Linked DNA regions of Homo sapiens: regions 2 and 3 are each reported to be linked to region 1. Evidence: microRNA targets listed by miRTarBase, many of them from high-throughput screens and not tested one by one. Region 1 holds a microRNA gene; each other region holds the end of a gene's coding sequence.
What was found. The annotated mature microRNA hsa-miR-30c-2-3p reads CUGGGAGAAGGCUGUUUACUCU and lies in region 1 at 5,387-5,408, opposite strand. An mRNA with a match to its seed (bases 2 to 7 or 8) in the 3' UTR can be bound and repressed. Matches are read on the target gene's strand: a 7mer-m8 pairs with bases 2 to 8, a 7mer-A1 pairs with bases 2 to 7 and ends in A, and an 8mer does both.

Region 1 (8,202 bases):
TGGGTCACAGGATATGGATCTGTTCAGCGTAAGTAGAGACCACTAAGAAGTTCTCTAAAGTGGCTGTACCAACTTATGCTTTCATCTGCAGTGTTACTCCACCTCCTTGCCAATACCAGATTTTTTTGTCTTTTTAATTTTACCCATTCTAGTAGTTGTGTCTTGCCATTGAGCTGTGATTTCATTTGCACTTATTTGATGACTAATAAGGTTGAGCAACTTTTTATGTTAATTGATCATCTACATATCCTCTCTGGTGAATTATCTGTTCAAATCTTTGCTCATTTTTCTACTGGGTTGCTTGTGTTTTCTAATTAATTTATAGGAATTCTTTATATATACTGGATATAAGTTGTTTGTTATATGTGTTGCTAATACCTCCTCTGGTATATTTTGCCTTTTCATTTTCTTAATGTTGTCTTTTGATGAACAGAAGTTCTTGGTATTATAATCCAAATTACCAGTTTTTTCTCTTTCTGGTTGGTGTTGTGTTGGGAGTTTTTTAAGGGAATTTTGCCCACTCCAAGGTCATAAGGATATTCTATATATTACTTCCTAGAAGCCTTGTTTTACCTTTCGTATTAGGATCCATAGACCATCCTGTCTCCAGTGTACTTCAGTATCATCTTTATCATAATAGTGTGTCTATTCTATTTATCATTTATCTGTTGTGTATCTGTCTGCCATTGTGCCAATATCACACTCTCATCATTACTATGGCTTTGTAACAGATCTTGATATGTGGAAGCATAATTTCTCCATCTTTTTTTCAAGATTATCTTGTCTAGCTTTTGCTGTTTGAATTCTAAATTTTAGAATCAGTTTATTAATTTCCAAACATACACCTGCTTACATTTTGATTGGGACTGTACTGAATCTACAGATCAACTTGGGGAGAATTAGCCACTTAACAATACTGAGTCCTGTTCTCTATGAACATGGTTTATCTCTCCATTTATTCAGGTCTTCTATAATTTATCTCAATAATATTTAGTTTCCAGTGCGGAGGTCTTATGCATCGTCTGTTAGATTTCCCCTTGGGCATTTGATAGTTTTTAATGTTATTATAAGAAGTATCTTTTAAAAATTTTCATTTTTATTTGTTTGTTGCTGATATATAGATATACAACTGATTTTTATATATTAACCATATAGTTTTCCAATGATAAAGTTAACCAAAATAACACCTAAAACCCAATTTTGTAATTAATAACCTGCTTTCTGCTATTTTAAAATGATGACAGCAGGCCGGGAGCAGTGGCTCATGGCTGTAATCCCAGCAGTTTGGGAGGCCAAGGCAGGTGGATCATCTGAGGTCAGGAGTTTGAGACCAGCCTGGCCAACATGGTGAAACCCCGTCTCTACTAAAAATACCAAAATTAGCCGGGCATGGTGGCGGGCGCCTGTAGTCCCAGCTATTTGGGAGGCTGAGGCGGAAGAATTGCTTGAAGCCGGGAGGGGGAGGTTGCAGTGAGGTGAGATCACGCCATCGCACTCCAGCCTGGGCGACAAGAGCGTGACTCTGTCTCAAAAAAAAAAAAAAAAAGAGAGAGAGAGCAGAATTATATTTACATTTATAGAAATCTAAGCCAGAGTAGTTTATAGAAATATATCACCACTAGGTATTATAAAGAATTACTAATTCGAACAAATAGAGACAAGGAGACTATAAATTCATAAATGAATAAAGTACATATGATACCTTTATTTCTACTGAGTTTTTAATGACACAATTAGGCTTACAAAGCTTGTCAATTAAAGCTTATGTCTTTTTTCAAATATAAATGGATGTTTACATTTAAAAGTAATCTGTTCTTTTAAAGTCTTTATGGCGTTTGCTTAGCAACCAATATATAAACATAACATAAAGATAAATCATCCTTACCAGTATTTAGAGAGTTACAAACTTGAATAGAGTTAGGTTCAAATTAATATGTTTACTTGTATCAGATACAATGATAATTTGAATATATATAACATATGCAACATATATAAACACACAAACATGTAACTTTTTATATTATATAACTCCTTAGCAATATCATCTCAGCAAATACGAAGAATTTCAAAAAGTTCATGGAAAATACATATTATGGAAAAACTATACATGGATTTCAATTTTTTCTTATATCAAAATAAACTTGTACTAATTTGTAACATGTCTGAACAGGATCTATTTTGAGGCACAAAAAAGGATAAGAAATCAGTTTGAAAAGAGCCCTTATCAGAGCAATGTCAATTCTGCTAAAATTAAAGCAAGAACATCAAATTTATGGGGAAGTTTGGGTGGGAAAATCAGGAAATCATTGCTGCTTTACAAAATGTTAGTGGGGGCAATGCCCCAAAGAAATTGGCAGTTTACAAATGAATAATTTATTTTAAGAAAAGATGAGATGATGTTGAAGATGAAGCCCACTATAGAAGACAAACTACATCAATTTGCAAGGAAAAAAAAAATCTTGTTTGTGCCCTAATTGAAGAGTACTGATGATTAACAGTACAAACCATAGCCAACGCCACAGACATTCCAACTGGTTCAGCTTACACAATTCTGACTGCAAAATTAAAGTTGAGCAAACTTTCCACTCTATAGGTGCCAAAATCATTGCACTCAGATGAGCTGCAGACAAGAGCAGAGCTTTCAGTGGAAATTTTACACAAGTGAGATCAAGGTCTTAAAGCTTTTCTTTGAAGGATTGTGATAGGAGATGAAACACAGCTTTACTGGTATGATCCTGAAGACAAAGCACAATCAAAGTAATGGCTACCAAGAAGGGGATGTGGTGCAGTCAAAGAAAAGCCAAGCAGTCAAGAGCTAAGGTCATGGCAACAGTTTTTTGGGATGCTTAAGTCTTTTTGCTTGTTAACTTTCTGAAAGGCCAAAGAATGATAACATCTACTTATTATGAGAGTGTTTGGGGAAAGCTAGCCAAAGGTTTAGCAGAAAAATGTCCAGGAAAGCTATACCAGACTCCCTCTCCACCATGACAATGCTTCTGCTCATTCTTCTCATCAAACAAGGGCAATTTTGCCAGAGTTTCAGTGGAATGTCACTAGGCATCCACCTTACTGTCCTGATTTGGCTCATTTGGACTTTTGTTTCCTAATCTTAAAAAAATCTGTCAGAGCACTCATTTTTCTTCAGTTAATAATGTTAAAAAGATGGCACTGATGTGGTGAAATTCCCAAGACCCTGTTCTTTAGGGATGGAATAAATGTCTGGTATCATTGCTTACAAAAGTGTCTTGACCCTGATGGAGCTTACTCTGAGAAATAAAATTTATATTTTTTATTTGTAGCTTTTAACTCAATGTTTCCATGAATATTTTGAAGCCCCCTCATATATATATTTATATATATAAATACATATATAAATATATATAAACATATATAAATATATATAAATATATATAAATATATGTAAATATATAAATATATGTAAATATATATAAATATATATATAAATATATATAAATATATATAAATATATATATAAATATATATAAATATATATAAAAATATATATAAATATATATATAAATATATATAAATATATATAAATATATAAATATATAAATATATATATATAACTTCTCAAGCATGCTTAATAATCCTACTTACTCATGTCACAAAACAGGCTAGTTAACAACTAGAACATATCTAGAAGAATAATACTAAACAAAAACCAAAATTATATAGCTTTATATCAAAGTTTTCCATAGTCAATGAAAGAAATATTCTGGAATATTTAAATACACTTGGTTTTGGAGGACAAGGCAATAAAAAGATTGAATAAAATTAGATATTTTACATAGATACACAAGATGTTTATATTTTGACACATTATATATTTTCTTGTAAGTTCCATGAGAAAAAGGACTTTGTTTCTGTTCTCTGCTATATCCCCTGTGCCTAGAAGTTCACATAGTAGATGCTCAATAAATAATTCTTGAATGATGAATGAATTTCAGCATGTATTTCAATAAGCTTTGAAACACCTACATTCATGACTAAAAGTTAACCATAAATTTAGATCTGGAATATTTGAATGTCCCCCCTTTTAATTTAGGCAGAATAATAAAATGCTATGGCAAAGCATATGCATCATTCTCTGCTGCTTAGAGTTGCTTTTCCCCTTACCCATATTATCTGCCTCTCCTAGCAGAAAGCAAAATTTCAAACATCTATAACAATTATTTCTTTGAGAAGACTGTAGAGCATTGTTTCAAAGAGGGTTTTCTTAAGCCTGTAGGCAAACCTAAAAAGGTAAATGACTCAATCAAGCTGGCACTTCAACAGTGTCTACCACTGCTTCAAGGCCAGCCTGTTCAAATACTTCCCTGAAATCACATGCTAAAGTCATTGTATTTAAACTTTTTTTCTATAAACTCATATGAAACAATTACTCCTATTGTATTAGGCTCTACAGTCAGTGCGGAGGTAAAATTAAAAGCTCCTCTAATACTTCTAAAGTAGTAGAGTGTCTTTTAGTTTAAATGACTGATATATGCTGATATGCCAAGACTAGAGTAATTTTGTTCAGATTTGTTTAATTTTTAATAGAAGCATTAAGTTAATTATTTAACTTCTTAAGGGCTTGTTATATAAAAATATGCCTTATTTAAATATTCTCTTTAACAAGAAGGCTTATTTCATAATAATTTTAAATAAATCAGCAATGGACTCAAATTTCAGGTAAGTTACATTCTAGATTAGATGTTTAATAGACCTTTGATTTAAACGATTTACATGAAAGAGTTTTTCTGGTTAAGGCTGAACTTATGAGTTCGTTCTGTAGATTTTTCTTAAAATTAACTTCTTGCATCCCATCCCTTACCTCTACATTTTCCTTCCTCTCCCGTCCTCCAACAACAATTCTATTTTTTCCTGAAATGTGTAACTATATTCTAGCTTTAAAGAGCAGACCTTATTGTTTGCCATTACAATTCCTAAAGCATGGGGCTCCAAGGTGCCTTTGATCCCTGATAAAATAGCAAGTCCAAGGACACTAGAATTTTTGCTTCAAGAAAAGCAGACTTCAGTGTGGAATGCTCTCAGGTTAAAGGAGAAATGTTTAGCTTAACGTATAGGTAATGTGTTGCTTTTACAGATCAGACTGCAGCAACCCACAAAATGTAGCCTCATACAAGTTAACCAGAACTTTTGTCACTTGGGTATTTGGTAATCTTTTTTTTCTTTTTAAACTAAGTGAAACAGTTCAAATATAACTGATATTATAGATTATCTTACATTTCTTTGGATGACTTAGTCAATTCACCTTTTTTCCTTTTACAGTTGACCTCAGAAACAAACACGGGATAGGATCAATTCTAAGACATAGAAATATTCAAAATCCATTTCTCTTTAGTTGACTTCCAAGGCAGAAAGAGTAAACAGCCTTCTCCCAGCTTTCTTACTTTCCACAGCTGAGAGTGTAGGATGTTTACAGTATCTGTCGCTCAGTGCTCTCTAGGATGGGGTTGGCAGTCAGCAGCACAAGCCTCAGGAAACCCAGTACCATTTGAAGATACCATAATATGTCACAGGAAAAGATCAGAAAAGTATACTTGGGACTAAATTATGGCTCTTTTAGGAGTAGGGTTGGAAGGGTGGGTGGGGAGGCTATATGACACTTACTTAGTGCTGCCTGCTCAGTTCTTGTTTTCTTCCTGTTTTGCACATCCTAAGATATTCCTAAGGTCTCTAGCTTTGAGCTTGCACACTCACGGATTTGGTTAATTTTGGATTTTCAATATTCTATGCTTTCCCAAAAGGGTTTCAAAATATTCGCCAAACTCCTTCCTTAAACAGTACATAATCCCTTTCTGACTGTTGGGAGACATGAAATGCAGCTTCTCACTCTCTGGGCTATACAACTTTGTTTCAGCTCACTCCTGCACAGAACTGAGAATAATGGCTAAACAGAAGACCAACAGTTTAATTACTGAAAATTAGTTACCTTAATGATGGGATACACAGTAATAAATTTAATCAAATGAGCAAAAAGTAAATATGTTAGAATACAACTTTACATGCATAAAAATGGTATATTGCAAATTGCTAATATAATGCTAAAATTATTTTAAAAATTCATATTCGGACAGAAGTGAACCTACAATTAGAGGCATACACATGAATGGAGTCAGTTGCTTCCTAAAGTTATTTTCTAAGAATGACTTATTCAAATAGTTCTTGGACTTCATTTGCTAAACTGGTCTAAGGTACACAAAATACTTGGGCGAAGAAGAAAGTCATCATTACTATACATCTCAGAACAAACCTACCTGATAAGAGACTACACTGTAAACCCAGGTGGCATATAATTCCAAACTGTTACAGGATCTTACTCATTTCATTCATTCATTCATTCATTCAACAAACAATTGTGACTGCCTGCCATATATCAGCAATGTTTTAAATTCTAGGTGATGAGAAATGAAGGGTATCATCCCTACCTTCGAGAAGGACACAGCTTAATTTGCAAGACAGACACATACACCATTACTATAAGTGTTATGATGGGTCAAAAGACACTTCTGAGTTGGCTAATAGCCAGGCTGAGTCTTGAAGCCTGAATAAAATTAGCTAGGTGAAGATGGTGCTAATGGGAATTTGGAAGGGGTGGGCAGTGAAGAAGATAGTGTAGCTTAAAGTGTACCAGAAAGAACAGTCATCCAATAGAGAAAGAAAGACAAAGGTAATGTATGCTGAGGCCTTTAAGAATTCAGCAGAGGTGGAGTCAAAGATGCATGTGGGTGAAGGGTAAGGGGAGAGACACAAGGGAAAGATGGGAGTCCTTATGTGCCAGGTTAAAGGGTTTGGGCATTATCTCCAAACGATGGGTACGAGTGAAAGATAGTAAGCAGGCAAGTGGGATGACCATGTCAGTACTTTAGAGAATTTACTCTAGCTTTAAGGTGGCAGGTAAGGAAAACAGGAAAAGAATCACTGCAGTAGTGTAAGGGAGAGCATGGGAGCCTTAATTAGGGAAGAGGCAGTAAGAACACAGAGAAAATGAATATGAGAAATTATAAAGACAAGAAGAACAGCAGAATTCAGTGAGTGAGTAGCTGAGGGGAGAGGCACTGTGGAGATGGAGAAGTCATGGGTAATTCACAAGCCTGGCTTGGGCTTCATAAGGCCTTTCATGCAGGAGGGAAAGAATAGGAAGAGAAGTGGAGAAGGAAAGAGCCCTAAGAATGATAACTTGAATGGGCTGGGCTGCAAAGTTATGACCCCATGCTCATTGAATACTGAATTCTGTCACAACTGAAAGGGTGAAAACACTTGAAGAACTAAATCACACAAACCTGTTCTTTATTCTGTTTCTGCACTTCTGCTTACTCTTCTACCTGGCAAGTGCCCATACAGTCTTCAAATCCCAAATCAAGTATTCTCTCTTGTGAATCCTCTCTGGTCAGCGTCATCCCTAACACCCACACCCCTCCCCCAACCTGAGGAGGAATTGTTCATTTTTCCTTTTACCACCATTATACTGTGCCTAGGTCACATAATTGCATATGCCTAGATCACAGAACTGATACTTTATTACAATTATTTGTTTACCTATCCATCTCTCTACTAGGGAAGAAACACCATGTTTCGTTTAACTTAACTTCATTTCATCAGAAGAAATTCACAACATGTATCCAGGGTTTGTCTGGTACTAAAGGAGGTTCTCAGTGAAGGTTTGATGAATGAATGAATGAATGAATGAATGATGCCATCTACCACCTGACAATGGGTTAACAATGTTAAGATGATTATTCAGGTTTTAAAAATCTCTAAATAAAAAATATTTACCAGTTTCTAAAACTTTGTTTTTATTCCCCCAAAATTCAAGGTTAGGCTGTTTTACTTTTCTAAGGAACTCATAGCTAAGAAGAGAAAGCAATCTCTCCTTAAATGATGGCATTAACTCCTGGAAAGTTAACCTTTTATGAAGGCAGCCTTATTTTAAAATTTTATTTTCATGATGGATTTCAAGTGAAGAAAAACCAGGATACACAGTAAATGCAGAGAAGAAATCTATGTAAACAGTTTAAAAATAGACAAGAATGAAAGAAAATGGTCATAAAATGTGGGTATCAATACTGAATAATTATGTAAGAGCTTAAAATGTTCTACATGGAAAGAACCACACCTTATTAAATAGTCACTAAAATAATTTTAGCTACATGAAATGATTTTAACTTCTTAAAG
Region 2 (7,000 bases), not on the chromosome of region 1:
TTGTCTCTGATCCTAAGTCATGCTAGTCTAATTCTCACAGAAATAAAACATGAAGAATTTTAAATGGATTTTAAAAGTTGCTTTCAAGCACTTTAGTTATTTTTTGTTTGTGTATATGTTAAGACCATAGATGACAAATGTGAAACAATTGAGTAGATATTTGTGGCAAATGAGTAGCCACATGAGGCAAATATATAGATATAAAGCCTCATACAAGGTGATTCTGGCTTAAGAGAAACACTCAAGGCTTTTAAAAAGTATTGGGCTTTGGGCCAGGTGTGGTGGCTCATGCCTGTAATCCCAGCACTTTGGGAACCTGAATCGAGGATCACTTGAACTCGAGTTAAAGACCAGCCTGGGCGATGTGGCGAAACTCCGTCTCTACTAAAAATACAAAAATTAGCCAGGTGTGGTGGTGTGCACCTGTAGTCCCAGCTACTCTGGAGGCTGAGGGAGTATGGGGCAGGAGAATTGCTCGAGCCTGGGAGACAGGTTGCACTGAGCTGATATTGCGCCACTGCGCTAGAGCCCAGGCAACATGAGTGAAACCCTGTCTCAATAAAAAGTATTGGGCTTTGGTTTTATATGAGGTCTTCAGAGAAACCACCGTCCAAGTTTTGCACTATGTCTCTCTTAAAAACAATTAAAATAATAGTATATGATTTTTTTCCTCACATGGAAAAAGCTGATTTTACAGTTAGACAAATGTATTTACTAAACATATTTTGCAAACAGGACATAACACATACCTCAATTATTTGAAAAAAATCACAAAAGTATCATTTCAGTCCATATAAGTATAATTGCTTTTAATAAAGTTAAACTCCTAGAGAATCATTAAAGAAGAAAAGCCAGGGGCCATGAGCTAATTAATCAGCACCAGTAATTAGGTTTTAAAATTGGCTTTGTTAAGGGCTAGCTTTAAGCAAATAACTTGTTCTTAATTGCCTTTGTTCCTTATATATAAAATAGAAATAATAATAATACTTATCCATACTTTGTCACAGAATTAACGTGATGATAATGAGGTAATAGATGGGAAAGAACTCCAAATAGTTAACAGTACCATAAGGTAGAGTTTTAGTGTCAGATATAGTATTTTACAATGACATATATGGAAAATTCCTTCTTTTATAATGATGGAAATATCCTAACAGTTTTAAACATAACCCAAGAAGTAGCAGAGAAGAAAGTATACTGAAGTATACTGAACTTTTATGTTCAAATTACAATAGCTCTACTAGATATGTGTGTGTATTTTAAGGCTTATAATTTGTAAACACTCCAACTATTAATAATAACGTATTAAGGAATTATAAGTGGCCCTGTACGTAGGCATTATTTTCTCTTTAATCAGGTTCACTGAGTATTGGGAGACCTAAGAAAGTTAATTATCTTAACAACTACATTATTATTGCATTGTAGCAGATGTATTTTGTGGTTTTAATTTTGACGGAGGTGGAGGATGGGGGGTGGTTCTTAGGTACTTTGCATATTTGCATTCTTTTTTTTTTTTTTTTTTTTTTTTTTTTTGAGATGGAGTCTTGCTCTGTCGTCCAGGCTGGAGTGCAGTGGCACGATCATAGCTCACGGCAGCCTCCACCACCTGGGCTCAAGTGATCTTCCTGCCTCAGCCCCCCGAGTAGCTTGACTACAGGCGTGTGCCACCCTGTCCAGCTAATTTTAAACAATTTTTTGTAGAGATGGGGCTCACTGTGTTGCCCAGGCTGGTCTTGAACTCCTGATCACTCAAGTGATCCTCCCACCGCAGCCTCCCAAAGTGCCAGGATTACAGGTGTGAGCCACCTGGCCCACATTCTCCTTTTTGTTTCAATACAGACATTAAAATTTTAGGCCAATTTGAGTTAGATTTTTATTATAACTGCTTTCAATTAAATCAGCTTCATAATCTGTTGATACTGCCAAGAAGCCAGAGTAATGTAAAGGAGAAAGAGTAGGGTTTTGTGTTAGATTGTGTTTGAATTATTACTCCACTACTCACTGGGTATTTAATTTCTTTGACCTTCAGGCTGGGCACGGTGGCTCATGCCTGTAATCCCAGCATTTGGAGAGGCCCAGGTGGGCAAATCACCTGAGGTCAGGAGTTCAAGACCAGCCTGGCCAACATGGCAAAACCACATCTCTACTAAAAGTACAACAATTAGCTGGGCCTGGTGGCGGGCGTCTGTAATCCCAGCTACTTGGGAGGCTGAGGCATGAAAATTGCTTGAACCCGGGAGGTGGAGGTTGCAGTGAGCCCAGATCATGTCATTGCACTCTAGCCTGGGTGACAAGAGTGAAACTCCATCTCAAATAAAACTGAATTATTTTAAAAAATAATAATTTATTTGACCTTCAGTTTCTTCATTTGTAGAATGGGCATCATAGTATGGTATCTCTATCTGCTTCTGAAGGTTATCATGAAGACTAAATAGGATATTTGTCAGCTGGGTGCGGTGGCTCACACCTGTATTCCCAGCACTTTGGGAGGCTGACACGGGAGATTCACTTGAGCCTAGGAGTTCTAGACCAGCCTGGGCAACATGGCAAAACCCCGTCTCTACCAAAAATACAAAACTTTGCCAGGCATGGTGCACATCTGAGGTCCCAGCTACTTGGGAGGCTGAGGTGGGAGGATCACTGGAGCCCAGGAAGTAGAGGCTGCAGTGATCTGTGATTGTGCCACTGCACACCAGCCTGGGTAACAGAGCGAGACCTGGTCTCAAATAAAAATTTTTTGAAAGAAAATTATTTTTTTAAAAAAGGTATGTGTCTACCTCAGTAACTGGTGTATTATTAGATGTTGAAGTGAAGTTATTCACCACCCTACTGCCCCAAGCGCACTTACTCATATGTAAGTTGTGTAATATTTGTTTCCTCTTTGTTTTATGGAATCTCTTGAGGGGGAAGAAAAAATCAGCAACTATTATGCTTTTCTTGAAACTCCATATATAGCTGGGATGATATTCCTGCATTATGGATTCCTAGAAATGTTTTATATGGCATCTTATTGTCCACAAAAATGACAACATAGCAGTAAATGAACAGGAACATCATAAGTTAATTGTTAATATGATGAACGCGTTAGTTATAGAAGTCGTTAGCTTTCTGTAGTCTTGGGATTCAGGCTTTCTTAATTCACACCACCCAGGTTTAGAGGGCCTATTACTATTGAGTAGGATAAAGAACTTCTCTGTTGCATGAGATTCATAAAACCTAAGAATTCAATTTGGAGTTCTTTAGTTGGTCCCACTTAAAATGTACAGCTTGCTTAGCTAGGAGGAAGGATCAGGTTGCTCTAGGTAGTTGAAGTCCCTTTTAAAAATAATTGCTACTCTAAAGAGAAGAAGGAATTAATGAAAGTGGTTCATAAAATCATTGATTTCTTTTATTTTTTGTTTTGACATGAAAGCAGAATGGACATTAGCAGCTACTATATATGAAGGGCATTTTGCCTGGTATAAGTATATTTTCTTTTTCTTTTTTTTTTTTTTTTTTTTTTTTGAGACGGAGTCTTGCTCTGTTGCCCAGGCTGGAGTGCAGTGGCATGATCTCACTGCCACCTCCACCTCCCGGGTTCAAGCGATTCTCCTGCCTCAGCCTCCTAAGTAGCTGGGACTACAGGCGTGCGCCACTGTGCCCAGCTAATTTTTGTATTTTTAGTAGAGACAGAGTTTCACCATGTTGGCTAGGCTGGTCTTGAACTCCTGACCTCAAGTGATCCACCCGCCTCAGCTCTCAAAGTGCTAGGATTGAAGGTGTGAGCAACCATGCCCGGCACAAGTATATTTTCATGGGTTTAGTCCTCACAGTATATCTGTGAGGTGGGTTGGTGGTATTTTCATTTTACAGAGCAGGAAATTGGGTCTCAGATAAGTTAATTTTAAGTAACTTTCATGAGGGCATATGGTAACAAGTGGCAGAGCTGATATTTATTATTAGTTAACTATTTTTGCTGTTTGTATGTGTAAGGGGTGGTTTTTTTTTTCATTTTTTTTACATGTAAAATGTAAAAATATTAGACATCCACATCTAAATGTAAAAATGATATTTCTTTTTTTTTAAGTCAGAAAACCAGTTTTCTTTTTTCTTTTGCTTTAGTCAGAAAGCCATAAAAACCATATTTAAATAGGATCAACTACTGTTTTTTAACATAACTGAGATTTGAACCGAGATTAATTTGGTTCCAAAGCTTATGCTAGGCCTTGGAGAATACAAAGATGAATGAAACCCCATTCATCTTGTTGATCTTGCAGACTAATGGAAAGGATTGACATGTGAGTTCATGTAGTACTCTGTTAAAAGTTAGATAGGATTCCAGATGAGAATGACAATGCTGGGGAAGATTTTTCCAAAGGAGGTAGCCTTTGAGTGAGTCAGATAGTGAAAAGTGAAATGGTGCCTGGTAGAGAAGGCATACATAGGCAGTGACAGGGTATGGAGCTAAAACCAGTCTTCTAGAGTTTTTCTCTGTAAGTTGTTAATAGACATTTTAAAGCAGAGAGGAATGGAAGAGTGGAATAACGATGATGGTAATAGTTTAAGAAGCATTTTGGACCAGGCATGGAGGCTCACGCCTGTAATCCCACCATTTTGGGAGGCCGAGGCGGGTGGATCACTTGAGGTCAGGAGTTTGAGACCAGTCTGGCCAAGATGGTAAAACCCTGTCTCTATTAAAAATAACAAAAATTGGCTGGGCATGGTGGCCGATGCCGGTGATCCCAGCTGCTTGGGAGGCTGAGGCAGGAGAATAGCTTGAACTCTGGAGGCGGAGTTTGCAGTGAGCTGAGATCATACCACTGCACTCCAGCCTGGGCGACAGAGTGAGACCCTGTCTCAAAAAAAAAAAAAAAAAAGCATTCAGAAGGAGATGCTAAGGGAGGTTGGTGGTATAAGAAACATCTTTTAATTTAAACATATTTCCCATTAAAACCACCTATTCAACTTTCATGTAAATCTTGTAAAGAGACGTTTCAATATTTAGTGTGAATATTTTGTTAATTAGATGTAGCAGAAAAATAACGCTTTGATGGGCAAAATTGCTGTTCAGATGATCTTGAAATAAAGAAGTTTTTAAAGCAATTTTTATATACTTTTTATTATTTAGCAATACATGTTTATCATAGAAATTTAAGAACCTAAGTAATACAAAGAAAGTAAGGATTACCTTTAATTAAGAACCTAAGTAATACAAAGAAAGTAAGGATTACCTTTAATCAATAAACAAAGATAAACTTTTGGAGGGAGCATATACCATTCCAGTCACTAAGTAAGGTTTTAATATTCAGATTCCAGAATTCTGATCAATCAATGGCTATGTTTCACACTTCTTTAAATTAAAAAATTTTCTATCTTTACATATTTTAGTGACTGAATTACCATGGCGTAATTGAGAGTTTGGATTTATTATGGTACATTCCGATTTCTATTTAATACATAAGGTACCTGATTAAAATTTTAGCCTATTTGGTTAAATACTAACAATACAGGTTGCTATTACTCTTGTCTTACTACCAATTAGACATTTCTCAGAATGCTAAAGCAAGAAGGAACCTTAAAAACTTATCTGGCCGCGCCCAGTGGCTCATGCCTGTAATCCCAGCACTTTGGAGGACAAGGCGGGCGGATCACGAGGTCAGGAGATGGAGACCATCCTGGCTAACATGGTGAAACCCCGCCTCTACTAAAAATACAAAAAATTAGCTGGGTGTGGTGGCGTGTGCCTGTAGTCCCAGCTACTTGGGAGGCTGAGGCAGGAGAATCCCTTGAACCCAGGAGGCGGAGATTACAGTGAGCCGAGATTGCGCCACTGCACTCCAGCCTGGGCGAAAGAGCGAGACTCCGTCTCAAAAAAAAAAAAAAAAAAATTGTTTTCCTTCTCATGTTACAAATGTAGATGCGATGTGTTTCTTTCAAGCTTTTGTTTCCAATGACATTAGTTTAGGTTTTCTTTTGTTTAGCTCTCACTTGATTGCAGTCTTCTTTCTTTCAGGTCAGACTGTTTTTCCATCTTTCGGCCAATGGTACAAAAAAAAAGGAAACTGAAGAGAGGAGATAGCATATGCCAGAGAAGTAGAAAGAGCCATTGTATGTCTGGGTATAATCATATAACCAGCCTGGAAGGAAGGAATGATTTCTGTTAGGGAAGGAAATTTTGCCATTAGTAACTCTCAGCCATGAATAGCTCCTCAAAGCAAGGAGCCTCCTGTATTGTGACCCATTTGAACTTAGTGAAGCTTCTTAGCTGCCCTATTTTTCACTGATGAAGTTGAATCAGCTCCACCTGAGTTAGGGACTTACACCATCTCCAATCTTACAGTGGAAGTTGGAGAAAATTAGGAACACATACCGTTTTATTTTACCATGAATTTTATTAGAAGGCCGCTATTATGAAGAAAATAATCATAAATTATTGTTTTCCAGAGAAAAAAAGAAGTGATAATAATCAGTTTTCTTTTTTTTCCTTTACTAAACAAAGACTTGAGTACTTACTATATTCCTGTTAATATTGCTAGGTGTTGAGGATACACTAGTGAGCCAAAACAGATACGGTCCTTGCCCTCACAGAACTTTAGTGGGGAGATAGGTACCAACCACATAAATGATATGTGATAAGTGCTATGAAGGGAAGGTGCAGGAGGCTATCAGAAGATATGAGAAGGAACTGACTGCTTGATCACGTGGGTTAAACAATGACAAGTTCCCCCCTGAAATCTAAATGCTTTTTTTTTTTTTTTTTTTTTGAGACAGAGGCTTGCTCTGTCACCCAGGTTGGAGTGGTGTAGTGGCACGATCTCTGCTTTGCTTACTGCAACCTCCACCTCCTGGGTTCAAGCAGTTCTCCTGCCTCAGCCTCCCAAGTAGCTGGGATTACAGGTGCCCGCCACCACACCCGGCTAATTTTTGTGTTTTTAGTAGAGACGGAGTTTCGCCATGTTGGCCAGGGTGGTCTTGAACTCCTGACCTCCAGTGATCCGCCTACCTCGGCCTCCCAAAGTGC
Region 3 (7,000 bases), not on the chromosome of region 1:
GCTACAGTGGAGTGTCCGCTCAGCTACTGTGGGAAGACCAGCTGCTGTGGGCACAGGGTTCACTGCATGTAAAGAAAGGAGACATCCTGGCCAACATGGTGAAACCCCATCTCTAGTGAAAATACAAAAATTAGGCATGGGGGCGCACACCTGTAATCCCAGCTACCTGGGAGGTTGAGGCATGAGAATTACTTGAACCCGGGAGGCAGAGGTTGCAGTGAGCCGAGATGGCACCACTACACTCCAGCCTGGGCAACAGAGTGAGGCTGTGTCCCACAAAAAAAAAAAAAAGAAAGAAAGAAAGAAAAGAAAAAAGAAAAAAAAAAGAAAGGGGACGTGCCTTTGGGTTAGCGCCAGATCACTCTTGGTAGCCTTACTCCAGCTGTGCCCCACCCCTGCCCACCTCTTCCACATTCCCCGGATTTGGGGAAGAGGGGCTTAAAAAATGAAGTAATTATTACAACACAGAGAGAAATATCCCTCTTATATGTCCATCTTGGTAATTTTTTTGAAAGTTAAAAAATGTAGAGACGAATGCTGTATGATTCTACTTACAGGAAGTACCAGAGCTACCAAATCCACAGAGACGAAGAGTAGAATTGGGGGCCAGGGGATGGGGGGAGACGGGGAGTGAGTGTTGAGTGGGTGCGGAGTTTTAATACGGGGTGACGGAAGGAGGTGAAGAGCTGGCTTGTGAAGATGCCTGCACAGGACGGTAAAGGCACTCATGCCATTGAACTAGACACGCATAAATGGTTACATGGTAATTTTTTTTTTTTTTTTTTTTTTTTTTGAGACTGTCACCCAGGCTGGAGTGCAGTGGCACAATCTCAGCTCACTGCAACCTCCGCCTCCTGGGTTCAAGCGATTCTCCTGCCTCAGCCTCCCTGGTGGCTGGGATTATAGGCGCACACCACACACCCGTCTAATTTTTGTATTTTTAGTAGAGATGGGGTTTCGCCATGTTGGTCAGACTGGTCTCAAACTCCTGACTTCAGGTGATCCGCCGGCCTCAGCCTCCCAAAGTGCTGGGATTACAGGTGTGAGCCACCGTGCCTGGCCTAAAACGGTAAATTTTATGTTACATATATTTACTACAATTACAATTTTTCTTAAAAGGGAGATAAAAATCCTCGGGCCACCAGAAGCTAGGCTTCGAGACCCTACACTGGGTCCCGGTGTCCTGGGACTGTCACCGGTTGTAAGCTGCTGTCCCTGTGTTCCCTGATCATTGATTACTCACAAGGCCAACCTTTTGCTCTGGAATGTGTTCAGGGTTGGACCGTAAGTCATATGGCTGCCACCTTAATAAGAATAGTTTCCTGCCTGAACTGTGGCCCCGGCTGCTTTCCAATCCTTAATCCTGACCTTAAACAGGAGAATAAAGGCCGGAGGAGCAGCTTCCAACCATTGCGTCTGTCTGGCTGTGCTCCGGAGGTGTTCCCATGTAGACTTTATCCTGCCACTTTCCCATGTGAAAGTCTCCCGTGTGAAGGTGGAGGCGGAGCTTACAGCGAGCTGAGATCGAGCCACTGCACTCCAGCCTGGGCGACAGAGCGAGACTCTGTCTCAAAAAAAAAAAAAGAAAAAGAAAAAGAAAAAAAGCCTCCTGCACTTCCCATGCTGGCTCATCAGATCCTTCTGCACTGGGTCCTGGCCACCTTTCCACCTCACTCTTCCTCTTCTTCTTCCTCTCTACGTTCCAGCTTCCCTGATTTCAAGTTGCAAATCTCAAGCCTCAAATCCTTCAGGTTTTGGCTGGAAAGAACACCTCCCTGGGGAGGGCCTCTTGGATGCCCCATTCCTTCCTACACACATCCCCTATTTTACTTCTGTCTCCTGCAGCACTTGCTCGGTGACATCTTCGGTATGGGACCATCTGCATCGAGCTTTATCTGGGCAGATGTGCAAGGCATCCCCTGCTGGCAGCACAGCCTCCTGAGAACGGGGGTCTCCTGCCCATTCACCACTGGTTCATGCAGGTTCCAGTTCTGTGCCTGGCCCGGAGTAGGGAATCAAAACACCGGATGAGGCTCAGAGACGCGGCAGAGGTGTGAAGCAGTTTTGTCCTCAGTCGCTAAGACCCGTCCCTAATGGCATGAAACAACCTCTGGGGACTGCCTGCAGGTAGATGCTGATGCAGGGAGCCACAGACACGACGTGGAGGATCAACGAGTGGGTGGCAGCCTATGCCAGACATCCCCGGCTATGCAGGGAAGGGAGTCTCTTCCAAGACTACAGGCATCTCTCTCTACTCTGTGTCTCAGGATGGAAAAGAGAGAGAGAGGGAGAGGGGGAGAGACAGAGAGAAGAGAGAGAGAGAGAGAGAGAGAGAGAGAGAGAGAGAGAGAGATGGCGCCAATCCTGCACCTTGAATGACCATTTCCAGAGCCATGCTGGCTTTGTAGAGGGTGGAGAGGTTTCCTGCAAGACCAAGGTGTGGTCACAGCCCCTGGCCCAGGAGGAGGCTCTCATGTTGTCCATGCTCTGCCAAAACTCTGTTGCTCAAACTTCAGCTGCTTGTGTTTTTCTGCGCCACACTTAGCACGTGAGCCTCTCATCTTGGCACTAAGCCCAGAGAAGGACTGAGGATCCCAGGCCAGCTGGGAAAGACAGATAAGGTGGGGCCTGGACCCCATGGCTGGAAAATAACGTGGCTGAAGGTGAATGTCCACCTGAGATTCCCTGGGCAAAAAGGGAAGCTGTATGTATCTTGCAAAGCCATCTTCCAGATCGGGATCTGGGATAAATTCTGCCCTCTGCTGCCTGGAAGGAGATTCTCGGCTGGCCTGGCCCCACTGGGCTGCATGCTACGCAGTGGCGCACTGGGTGTAATGACCACTGTCTGCTTTTGCAAAAAATAAATAAATACATACATACATACATAAAATAAATACATAAATAAAGAGCAAACAGGCTACCGCCAGGTGTCCCCGGGGCAGAGCAGAATTTCTTGACAATCTGAAGTGGCTACTTTCTCTCAAAGTTTTCGTGGTACTGTTCTCAGCTCAGCAAGCACAGCTTCCAGAAAGGTATGGATGTTGCTTTGAAAAACAGGCTCCTTTGAATAACAAAAGTTTGATATTCTATTAATGTATATTTTGGAAGAACAAAGTGGGAAGGCACAGGTACACTTCTTATTTTTTATTAGTGATCAATGTGTTTTTGAAAATAATAATAGTGCATGATTTATTTCTCACTTGCTTCGGATTCAAGAGCTTTTATGACTTTGCAGGCTCCGTTCAGAACGAAGCGGCCTTGGCAAAGGGAAAGAGATCAACATTAACGAGGTTTGCTGAAGTGTACCTGCTGTATGAAAGATGATCGCGAATTAGTCCGAGAGCCAATGCAGGCCTGCTCTCGAGGCCCCCTTCCTTGGAGCATAAAGGCCAGCTTCACTTTGCCCAGAGCAGTCTGGCCCCACCACAAAGGTGGTCTGAGGCCAGAACGTGTTGGAATCTATCACAAAGGCTGAATCTGGGGTGCACATCTGCCCAGGAGCCACTGGCATTCCGGACAACCGCCTGCAAGAAAACGAACTTGGCTGACTTTGGGTCCCAAATGTGCACACGGATTAGACTGAGAAGAAAGACAATGGTGTGGTAACAAACGGCTGCATCGTCATTAAAAATGCATTTGGAGAGGCTTCCCAGCTATGTGAGAGAGAAAGAGCTCCACTGGCTCTTAAACCTTAATTAAATGTTTTAGTATTAATTGCTATTTATTTAGGGACAATAAGTACCCCAGCAAATCTGAGAGATGTTTCTGGCTATTCTGCACCCGACGCTCATGTCCAGGCATTAATTGCAAGATTCAGGGGATACTTAGAATCCCAACGCTTTCATCCTAGTGAGTGGTAAACGGTCTGTCCCGCAATCGGCAACAGAATCTTATAAGCATTTATCAAGGACTAACGAGGCTGTGTGCATAGCCCTCCTGGTCCACAGCTACTTCAGGAGGCCACCAGGAGTGGGCCGTGGCTTCGTGTCGGCAGATTCCCAGGCTGAGCGCAGCTGCCTTCAGTAAGCCTCACGGGCTCTTCTGAACTCTGCGGACGACCTACCTGAGAGCCACAGGGAGGGGGTCAGCTCTTTAGACACAGAGATGTTTCCTTGTGTAAATGCCGGTGGTCCTGAAACAGCTCCTCAGGCACAGTTGGGAAGTGGGGTCCACCTGGGGCCCATCTGGGGGCGCCCATGTCTCTTGCCTTTGCCTGGGGCTGCAGCACAGGGCTAGCCCACCAACAGTATTTCTGGGGGGTCTTCAGTGCCCCATGCTGCTGGAAGGGGAGGACCAGGCTGATGAGACACGAAGGTTTTCTGGGGCAGATGAGTAAATAAAACACTTTTTTTTGCCCTATTTTATCTTTTTATTTTTTTTAAAGTCAGTGCTGCGGGCTCCTGTTCTAATGGAAAAGAAGGATCCCTGGGCTCAGGCCTGTGGAGTAGGCAGGGGATGTCCCGGAGCCAGGCAGCCATCGGGTGATCCAGCCCCACCACTAACAACCTGGCTGACCTCGGCCAAGTCATTTAACCTCCCACTGCCTCAGTTTCCCCACTTGTAAAAGGAATTGCTGGGAGGACTGGGCAGGTAAAAAGTGTTCCATGAGCTGCCGTGCAAACATTAGAAAGCTGTCCCCTCTCCCCTAGGGAGCTGACCTCGGCCAAGTCATTTAACCTCCCACTGCCTCGGTTTCCCCACTTGTAAATGAGATTGCTGGGAGGACTGGGCAAGTAAAAAGTGTTCCACGAGCTGCCGTGCAAACATCCGTATTACGGGGCTGTCCCCCCGAGTTGACCTCTCCAGTTCTGTGGGTCTGTGGCTCTTGGCGGAAGGGAGTGAGGGTCTTCGACTCTAAGGCCTTGCATCTCCCAGGTCAATGAATTGTGCATTAACAAATTTTAAAAATCATAACAGAGATGCTGGCAACCATCAGGACCCAGTCCCTACAGAGGCTTTACCAGGCGGGTCGCGGACTACACTGCTAGCAAGCCAGCTCCCTGCGGCTAGCTTGGTTGGCACTCCAGTAGGGGCTCCCTTCATGAGGGGAGCTGCGGTGAGGCAGACAAAGGCACTGGCTTCTGATGGATGCTCTAGGCTGCACATCCCCCCACTGAATGGTGGGGGCAACCCGCCTCTTACCTGCTGCAGCAAAGGCCCTTGCAGGGCAGCTCGGTTCCCATATTCTAATCTAATTACGTTTCTTTGCCAGTTGGCAGAACATGTTGGCTTCGGGGTAGGGAGTGAGGGCTGGAGATTTGATTTGGAGCAAACATGCAGTTCATTAGTGCCAGGATGAGGAACTGACCGATTCACTCCCCTCTCTGACTGCAGCTGGTTCCCCGCCCCCAGCAAGGTGCAGCCAGCTGAGTCCTCCAGACCTTCCCTGTCCGCGGGCCCCTGAGGACTTTGTCCATTCTGTCCCTCATATCAGATGGTGGGCAAAAAGTAAGAAAAAAATATTTTCAAATATTGGTATTCTATCCTAGAAATACGGCTCCCTACTCATGGAAGGGATCTTAGGTCACCTTTGGAAGGAAGCAAGATGAGGATGCGTAGAAAGCCCAGCGTCGAAAAGAACCATGAAAACAACACGAAAACCTCAGGTCACACCCATGGGCTGTGCTTATAGAATGCATGGGATGTGCAGCCATGAGGGCGCAATGCTCTCTCCCCTCAGCAGCCCGAGTGCTCTGAAGACTCAGCACAGAAGGAGGCAATTTAACGTTAGCATTAAAGTTAATATCACTAAAAGCAAACCAAATGTTCCCATCCAGCAGAGCGTGGAAAATTCATCCTGTTTTGGTGCCGGTTCCTGGCTTCAAATTAGTAGATGTCTCAACTCTTCCCTTTCTTTCTTTATCATTTTCTTTCTTATCTCTTATTTTTATATTTCAAAATTGTATTTTAATTCTGCCTTGCGCCCTCCCCCGATGTAAAGACATGTGATGGAGGTGCGATTCCTGCCTCCCTAGCCGCTGTCCTAATCTCCTCCTGTTGTGGGAAATGAGAGCTGTAATTGTCGCTTGTTTTAGGGAATGACTTTCCCTGCCACGTAGGCCACGCATGTGGTGGCCTTCCTGAGGGAAGGAGTGGCACTGATAAGAATAGTGAGGACGTGGAATCAGGGTGCATGAATGTCTGTTACTATCCTCCCCTGGGACGGGGAGGGCACTTCTAACAAATCCAACATCAAGGTCAAAAGCCCAGCCCCCCCCGCCGGCTCATGTTCAGAGAAGTGATGCCATTGGAAATCCACCCGCCATGTCTAAAAGAGCTCCCAGTGATCCCAAAGAGTGCAGGGGAGGGCAGTGGGGAGGGGAGGAAAGGGAACGAAAACAGGAATGTCCAAAGAGAGGTACCTACCGTGAAACAGACACACGGCGTCTGCCCTGCCCCCAGGAGGTAAAAAAGACTTCGGCCAGTCAGCAGGAGATTTCAAACCATTTCTCAGACACGAAGGCCACAGGAATAAGATGCCGATCAGAAGAGGAGGGTCTGCGGTGAACAGAAAAATGGGCTTTGGCGTGCTGGTACTTGACCATGACACATGATAGGCAAGCCGGGGCAGGCCTGTGGTGGGGACTGGCTTCTTGAGAAAGGAAGCACTAATGTGGACTCCTGGCCTTGCCAGGAAGGGACCACCCCCCACATTCCCTGTGGCTGGGAGAAGTCCTCACACACGAATGCTTTCTACCCTGGGAGGCTTTGGAAGACACAGACTGAGGGATCTGGGCACACGAGCACTTTGCTGCACAGGCCGGAAGGCTGTGCCGTCTCCACATTTTCGTTTTTGAATTTGCAGGATTAGCCCAGAGCCTGGGGTCTCTGCCTCTGATGGCAGATTTGACCCACTTTATTGCACATGACAGAAAGGATAGAACCTGGCTCCCAAAATGTCTCGCCCATATTTTGTCACCTTTGAGACTAAGCTACCATTTCCCAAGGCCAATGAAACCCAACAGAGCATGACCTTGGGCCAAAAGGCAAGAACTAGTTC

Region 2: miRTarBase lists SLC16A4 as a target of hsa-miR-30c-2-3p. Seed matches in the 3' UTR shown: 7mer-A1 at 5,740-5,746.
Region 3: miRTarBase lists AJAP1 as a target of hsa-miR-30c-2-3p. The part of its 3' UTR that is shown has no 7-base or 8-base seed match.

The regions. Positions count from the first base shown.
Region 1 is chr6:71,371,578-71,379,779 of GRCh38, forward strand. It overlaps MIR30C2 (microRNA 30c-2), which reads right to left and starts at 5,454; the gene lies at 5,383-5,454.
Region 2 is chr1:110,357,778-110,364,777 of GRCh38, forward strand. It overlaps SLC16A4 (solute carrier family 16 member 4), which reads right to left. Exons shown (of 9, transcript NM_004696.3): 9 at 5,080-6,116. The coding sequence ends at 5,989. Among named protein-coding and RNA genes, the nearest start is that of RBM15, 22 kb to the left of the region's middle.
Region 3 is chr1:4,773,925-4,780,924 of GRCh38, reverse strand. AJAP1 (adherens junctions associated protein 1) reads right to left here. Exons shown (of 6, transcript NM_018836.4): 5 at 6,367-6,498. The coding sequence ends at 6,426. Among named protein-coding and RNA genes, the nearest start is that of AJAP1, 120 kb to the right of the region's middle.